Homo sapiens: one gene and its partner. The protein of the gene in region 1 purifies or fractionates together with the protein of each later gene. This does not show direct contact. Each region holds a gene or a part of one and is shown on either strand. Other genes may lie near its edges.

What was found. Proteins that work in one complex are often made in the same cells at the same time.
Region 2: the proteins of GLRX2 (region 1) and PITPNB fractionate together in Homo sapiens (co-fractionation; one large-scale study listed by BioGRID). This does not show direct contact.

The regions. Positions count from the first base shown.
Region 1 is NC_000001.11:193,095,461-193,099,393, reverse strand, and holds the end of GLRX2 (glutaredoxin 2 isoform 2 precursor), read left to right. Parts: intron 1-1,633; coding exon 1,634-1,810; intron 1,811-2,634; coding exon 2,635-2,769; 3' UTR 2,770-2,924; downstream 2,925-3,933. UniProt on the Homo sapiens protein: Glutathione-dependent oxidoreductase that facilitates the maintenance of mitochondrial redox homeostasis upon induction of apoptosis by oxidative stress. Involved in response to hydrogen peroxide and regulation of apoptosis caused by oxidative stress.
Region 2 is NC_000022.11:27,891,381-27,895,590, reverse strand, and holds part of PITPNB (phosphatidylinositol transfer protein beta isoform), read left to right. Parts: intron 1-952; coding exon 953-1,036; intron 1,037-3,260; coding exon of another isoform or gene 3,261-3,419; exon of another isoform or gene 3,420-3,462; intron 3,463-4,210. UniProt on the Homo sapiens protein: Catalyzes the transfer of phosphatidylinositol and phosphatidylcholine between membranes. Also catalyzes the transfer of sphingomyelin.

The DNA.
Region 1 (3,933 bases):
ACTCCAGCCTGGACGACAGAGTAAGACTGTCTCAAACAAAAACAAAACAAAACAAAAAAAAACCTAGACAAATGTCTGGGTGCTAAATCTATCCATTCAAAATCTTTTGAAGGTCCCAGGCATTCATATGTTTAGAAACAAAAAACAAAAAGAAAAACTTCATAGGCTGCGTGGATGCATAGCAGAATCTCATAGCCATTGTGGTAAAGGCCTGGAAGGTAGTTTTCAAACCAGGCTGATATCATCATTATATGGAGAGGTTTTTTAAACATACAGTTTTCAACTTCTACCTCAAACTCATTGAATCAGCATTTCTGGAAGTAGCTTTTCCTGAATTAAGAGTATGAGAATACCTTATCAAGAGAGTAATGACAGCTTTTGTACTATAAAGGTATATAGGAAAGGATAGAAGTAGAGGGGTAAGCCTTACATTTTAAGAAGAAATCATATACCATTCCTTACCATTGAAAGTTATAGAATAGAAGGTAAGGAGTTAACTCCTGAATACCTACTGAATATTTGAAAAGAAGTATAATGTTTTGGGGCTGGGCGCGGTGGCTCACACCTGTAATCCCAGCACTTTGGGAGGCTGAGGCGGGTGGATCACCTGAGGTCAGGAGTTTGAGACGAGCCTGGCCAACATGGTGAAACCCCGTCTCTACTAAAAAACAAAAATTAACTGGCCGTGGTGGCAGGTGCCTATAATCCTAACTACTCGGGAGGCTGAGGCATGAGAATCGCTTGAACCTGGGAGGCGCAGGTTGCTGAGATCCCACCACTGCACTCCAGCCTGGGGGACACAGTGAGACTTTGTCTCAAAAAAAAGAAATGTACAATGTTTTGGTTTTTTTGTTTGTTTGTTTGTTTGTTTTGAGACAGAGTCCACTTACTGTGTTCCTCAGGCTGGAGAATCACTGGAACCACCTCCCTGGTTCAAGTGATTCTCCTGCCTCAGCCTTCTGAGTAGCTGGGATTACAGGGATGTGCCACCATGCCTGGCAACTTTTGTGTTTTTAGTAGAGATGGAGTTTCACCATTTTGGCCAGGCTGGTCTCGAACTCCTTACCTCAAGTGATCTGCCTGCTTCAGCCTCCCACAGTGCTGGGATTACAGGTATGAGCCACTGTACCCGGCTGAAAAAGGAGTATAATGGAGATTAAATATCTGGACTGTAGAGCCAGATTTGCCTGGGTCTAATCCCAGCTCTTCCACCTATTAGCTGAGAACCATGAACAAATTGTTGATCTTCCTCTGCACCTCACTTTCCTCAACTGTGAAGTGGGGACAATAATAGGACCTACCTCAGGATTGTAGTGAGGTTTAAATAACACAGTGAAGATAAATTGTTGAGAATAGTACCTGGCACACAGAAATGGTTGCTGTATATGAATTGGCTACAATTATTATTTATTGTTATTGCTCTATGCCAGGCACTTTTTGTTATATCTTTTTTCTAATAACATTGCTTTGAAATGAAAAATATCCTCAATCTGCAGATGAGAAAAAATAGATGATGCTTAGTTTGAGCCCAGAATCATGAGAGACCAAAATCCATACCCTTTCCATTATATCTTAATTTATTTCCAAATGGTAATGTCTAGAATTAAAATGATTTTTTGTGGTTTTATTTCAGGAAACAATTTCTGATAATTGTGTGGTGATTTTCTCAAAAACATCCTGTTCTTACTGTACAATGGCAAAAAAGCTTTTCCATGACATGAATGTTAACTATAAAGTGGTGGAACTGGACCTGCTTGAATATGGAAACCAGTTCCAAGATGCTCTTTACAAAATGACTGGTGAAAGAACTGTGAGTATATCCTCTGTGGTGCTGTTCCTCTTTAATAGGTTGTAAACTAGATCACCCAGAGCCTAGAACCTTGTGTTAGGAAAATGAGCCAGACATTCTCTGAGGATAGATAAAGCAGCTGCAGATCTAGGAACCAGATTCTTAGAATAGGAAACAGCAGAGTTGATTTATTTTATTTTTATTCTGTGTGTGTGTTTTGACTGGGGTTGATGAGTAGTGTTATTATGAGTGCTTGTCTATGGATCTTTGAGTTCCTCTTGGAGCTCTTGGCAAGATGAAAGTATTCTTCCTCCCTTTACCTGGGCAATACAGGGGTTGGTCTTCAATTACTTTTCTAATAGGAGTGCTTTAGTGCTCCATGTTTTTAGATTCTTGAAATTTGGATTTTTCCATAATATGCATAATCAGAAAAATGTACAGTGTTGCCACTTTCAAGTTTATTGAAAGTTTATAGTGCACTCTTTCCCTTCAGTAAACAAATGTAAGAAATAACTAAATATTACTGTTTATCTGCTTTAGTTTATTTAAAGCTTTAGTAATCAGGAAGAAAGGTTTTAGAATCAGATTGTTTGGATTTGAATCCCAGTCTGTCATGTACCATCATTGTGATTTTGTGCAAGTTCCTGTGCCTCATTTTCCTCCAAAACAGGGCTAAAAATAATACCTACCTTAAAGGGTAAAGATTTTAAGATTTAATTTGTGAAAGAGCTTTGTGGTGCCAGGCTCATAAAAGTACCCAGAGTTCAAATGTCTCGTTATTATGTGAAATGATCTTAGTTCTGATACTAGAGTAAAGCCTAATTCTTCTTTTGTTTGTCCAACAGGTTCCAAGAATATTTGTCAATGGTACTTTTATTGGAGGTGCAACTGACACTCATAGGCTTCACAAAGAAGGAAAATTGCTCCCACTAGTTCATCAGTGTTATTTAAAAAAAAGTAAGAGGAAAGAATTTCAGTGATGTTTATACTAATAAGTTTGCTAGTACAGTGTCAGTTATTTAAAGTGGTAATGCCCGATAATGTCTTTTAAATGTTTGAGGATGTTTTAAATACATGCATTGTCTTCACGAAGAAGATGTAAAAATAATGAACAATAAATTGCGGTGGAAACCTCTTCTTCCCACTTGCCAATTCTTGAGAAAAAGGGATGGTATTAAAAAAATGAAAGGTTGGAGTTGTATCAAGATAAGAATGTATTTTATTAGGAATTTAGATATGAATTTTACAACCAAGAGCTAGAAGGTAAGCATTTGGAATTCTTTATTTCCTATTCAGGAGTTAACTCTTTATCTCACATAGTTTTTAAGTGGTAAGGACTGATATTTGATTTCTCTTTAAAATTTAAGGCTTTTGCTGATACACTTGTGAACTAGGCAGGAATATCTTATACGATATTGTGAAAAGCCTTCACACTTTGTACTTGTAGAGTAATAGAAGTATATTAAATTTTTAGCATGGAATGAAATTTATCTTAGAGAAACTAAATTACTCATTTAATGACTTAATAGTTCATTAAGTCATTAATGACTTAATAGTTCATTTGTCATTAAAACTATACCTATGGGCAGAAATTAAAAGGAGAAGATTTCGGCATTGTATGAGGATGAACTTTTGAAACAGTGTAGAAATGTACTTTAGTTGGCATGGGATGGTGGCTCACGCCTGTGATTCTAGCACTTAGAGAGGCCAAGGCGCAAGGATCACCTGAGCTCAGGTGTTGGAGATCAGCTTGGTCTACATAGCAAGACCCCCATATTTACAACAAATAAACAAAAATTAGCCTGGTGTGATGGCACATGCCTGGAGTCCTAGCTACTCAGGAGGCTGAGGCAGGAGGATCTCTTGAGCCCAGGAGTTTGAGGTTTTATATATATATATATATATAAATTTTGAGGTTTTTTATATATATATTTTTGGAAAGTAGAACTCTCCACCTCACAATTTAACTTGAGTACATTTCATATATATATACACACACATACACATTTTATATATTAAATGTACTTGAATTAGATTGTGAGGTGGAGAGTTCTGCTTTCCAGAATTTATGTGTATTTTATTTATTTATTTATTTTGAGACAGAGTCTTGCTTTGTCGCCCAGGCTAGAGTGCAGTGGCGCGAT
Region 2 (4,210 bases), on another chromosome or scaffold:
TGAGACAGAGTCTTACTTTGTTGCCCAGGCTGGGGTGCAATCACGTGCTGTCTGCTCAGTGCAACCTCTGCCTCCTGGGTTCAAGCAATTCTCCTGCCTCAGCCTCCCAAGTAGCTGGGACTGCAGGCATGCACCACCATGCCTGGCTAACTTTTGTATTTTCAGTAGAGATGGAGTTTCACCATGTTGGCCAGGCTGGTCTTGAACTCCTGACCTCAGGTAATCTGCCTGCCTCAGCCTCCCAAAGTGCTAGGATTACAGGTGTGAGCCACTGCACCCAGCCTTTATGTTGTTTTTCTTAGTAATCCTCTATAATTTATAATCTAGATAAGATTATTTGGTGTGCATTAATCTGTATGACTTAATCTGATATTTTCAGCTTTTAAATGGGCATATCTTTGGCAGTTTTCAAACAATTCCTAATTAGTTCACAGATGGCATTTCAGAAATAAATGATTGATCAACATGCAGTAGAGAGGAGTTGGCATCATACTGAAACTGAATAGCTTTAGGATAATCAAATTTTGGAGAGATTTTAGACCATACAGTGCATCATTTGAATTCTACTTGTAATGTCACCTTATGTTTGTATAGGACTTTGTTGGTTACAAAGGTTACAAGTACTTTGTTGTGTATCATTTGGATTAAGCATAGGTCTCGTATATTTAGTTACATAAATCATCTGTGAGGACTGTCAGAAGATAATATTGACAGGTTTCTATTCATTTGGCAGCATCCTCATTCTCTCCTTCCTTATTATTTGGGGTTATAAGTGGTAATAAAAGACTTTTAGATCCTGCAAAATGTCAGACAGCTAATATAATGAAATAATAATTTGGGTCTTTTAATTCCCTATAATGTCCCCTGAGAGACTCAAGATAAAGATTATATGTGTAAGCATAATAGAATAATCTACAGTTTGTTTTGTTTCTTTTCTCTTTGTCATTGGTAGGTACATGGTTTAGATCCAAACACATGGAAAACTGTTGAAATTGTCCATATAGATATTGCAGATAGAAGTCAAGTTGAACCAGCAGTAAGTATTACTCAATGACATTTAATCTGTTCCCTTTTACAGTTAAAAATTATTTTCTACTATCACATTTGGGATTAAGTTAAAAAAATTATTTCCTTTCTTTCTTGTATGGCCTACATTTCTATGCCGAAGTGAGCTTGGAGTGAAGTCTAGTACGTCTGTGCAGCAAAGAGACCAGAGTAAGAGAGAAGGCGATTTGTTTTCTGTGTAGATTTTGGCTTTGTGCAAGTGATCCCTTTAAGAAATCCCAGTATACCTGGGAAATGTAGGTTGTTTTCATTGAAAAACAAAAAACACATTGTTTACAAAATAATTCTCCCTCCAGCTAGGTCCCTTTTACTTTTCAAATGTGATTAAGAAAGCAAAAATTTAATTTGCATACAAGTATTTAGTAACTCAGCTACAGTTGTTATTTGTGGAAAATGGTTGGTGTAGAGTATCTTTTTAAAAATGTTCTTTTAGATTCCAGAAGTAGGTGTAGAGTATTTTAATTTAATAGTTGTTTAGCTTTCTATTTTGAATCCTATTAAGATGTAAATATTTCTACTCCTGGCTTTTGACTTAATAAAAAAATTTCTTTTTCACAAGTAAAGATGCTTATTCCTCATGCCAGATTAAGACTCAAGATAAAGATTATATATGTAAGCATAATAGAATAATCTTAGGCTGGACACAGTGGCTTCCACTTGTAATCCCAACACTTTGGAAGGCCAAGGAGGGAGGATTGCTTGAGCACAGGAGCTTGAGACCAGCCTGGACAACATAGTGAGATCCTGTCTCTAAAAAGAAAAAAACGATTAGCTGGGCATGGTGGCATGTGCCTGTAATTCCAGCTACATGAGGAGGCTTAGACAGGAGGATTACTTGAGTCCAGAAATTTGAGGTTGCAGTGAGCCGTGATCGTACCACTGCACCCCAGCCAGGGTGACAGAGCGAGATCCTAGCTCAAAAAAAAAAAAAAAAAAAAAAAAAGGCTAGACATGGTGGCTCAAGCCTGTAATCCCAGCACTTTGGGAGGCTGAGGCAGGAAGATCACGAGGTCAGGAGATCGAGACCATCCTGGCTAACATGGTGAAACCCCTTCTCTACTAAAAATACAAAAAATTAGCCGGTATGGTGGTGGGCGCCTATAGTCCCAGCTACTCGGGAGGCTGAGGCAGGAGAGTGGCATGAGCCCGGGAGGCGGAGCTTGCAGTGAGCCGAGATCGCGCCACTGCACTCCAGCCTGGACAACAGAGCGAGACTCCGTCTCAAAAAAAAAAAAAAAGGAAAAAACAGACCCCTGTCTCATCTTGCCAAAGTTTATGAATATTAATGTGGTTCTTACTTTATAGTGTGCTAAGTGCTGCTTTGGTTTTACACAGCATGTGTAAATACAAGCACTGGTCCTCTTCCTCTAATCTAGAGAGCTAAAGCTTTGGAATAAGAGTGGTACCCTTTGTTTTGTCGTGGTCAAGCACGGTATGTTCAGTAGGCGTCCCTTTCCATTTCTATTTTTGGTGCTTATTCCCTGAACTTGAGCAGTGTTGTAAGTGAAACAGAAATAAGTCAAACGCTAAATGTCTGGTTTTGCTGTTGAAATTTAAAGGTAAACTTGCCTGAACAAAGGTCCCCGACCTTTTCTCAGATGTCACTGGGGTTGAGACTGCCAGCAGTGACCCAGTGCCAGGCTGGGCCAACTCTGCTAGGGCCCCCTTCCTGCTTAGAAGTGTGAGCACTGATAAGGGACTTTTGTTCTAGAAGTTCTTAAATTTTAGTTTTGCTGTGATTCGAAGTTGTTTCAATTTTAGGGATATTTCCACCTTTGACATTATATAGGGAGTTTTTCAATCTGTAGAAATGAAATGATATATCTGTTATGCCCTTTTATTTCTCTTGGTATTGTTTACAGCTAAGATTTACTATATGTGAAAGAATGATGGGAAGAGAAGTAATTGGGAGTAATGAGTGAGTTAGTTAATGACTAGGTCAGGACAGCTTACAAGCCTGGAGCTGCCCATCACTAAAATACCAAGCAGCAGTATGCCACACCAGGATCGGGTGCCCTGGGGAAGGCATTCCCATTATGTTGTTGGTGTTTGAAAATGCTATAATGACCAAACAAAATGGCTCGACTGACTCAGACTTATGGTCCATAGGTTTGCAGTCTACGTTGTTCACCAGCAGAGTACAAGATACCTTTGGTTTTGCTGGAGGCATAAAAATTCTTTGTTCCTGTCCTCAGGCGAAAATGGGCAGTGTTTACAGGCATGAATGCTGGTGGAAAGAGCAGAGTAAGGGCAGATTGCACAAGAACCGTGGAGGCCCTGGTTCCCATCACCTCCACCTCAGCACAGACTTCAGAGAGGAGAGGAGGCACTGGATGCATGACAGCAGCACTTGAGATAGGTGCTCCAGGTGGAAGGCACTGCACATGCAAAGGCTGAGTAGGTAGTTCTCTGTGTGAAAATGGTGATGTTTGGGGTGGATAGCTAGTGAAAAAGACTGGATTGAGCCCAAGTGAGGAGGATCTGTGTTGTGAGGTATGGAGCTTTGACTAAAAACATACATTCTAAAACTAGGTGGGCTTCAGATTTCCATTCTGAGGCTCTGCCACCTACTGGCTATTTAATCTTGGACAAGTTGGTTAGCCTCTCTTTGCCTGTATTATCTTGTGTAAAATGAGAGTAATTATAAGATTAAATGTGAGCACTTAAGAGTATATTAGTCTGTTTCATACTGCTGTAAAGATACTACCCATGACTGGGTAATTTATAATGGAAAGAGGTTTAATTCACTCACAGTTCTGCATGGCTGGGGAGGCCTTGGGAAACTTACAGTCATGGTGGAAGGGGAATCAGGCACGTTTTACATGGCGGCAGGAGAGAGAGGAGGAGGAAGGAGGAACTCCTAAACAGATCTTGTGAGAACTCACTCACCGTCACCAGAACAACATGGGGGAAGCTGCCCCCATGGTCCAGTCACCTCCCTTCCTTGACACATGGGGATCACAGGTCCCTCCCTTGACATGTGTTAATTACAATTTGAGATGAGATTTGGGTGGTAACACAGAGCCAGATCTTATCATACAGCCAGTGTGTAGTTCAGTAAATGCTAGCTGTAATTATCATTATTATTAGCTCCAGTTGTACAAGAGTTCCAAGAGTCTGTGTTCACACCAAGCATTGTCTGGGG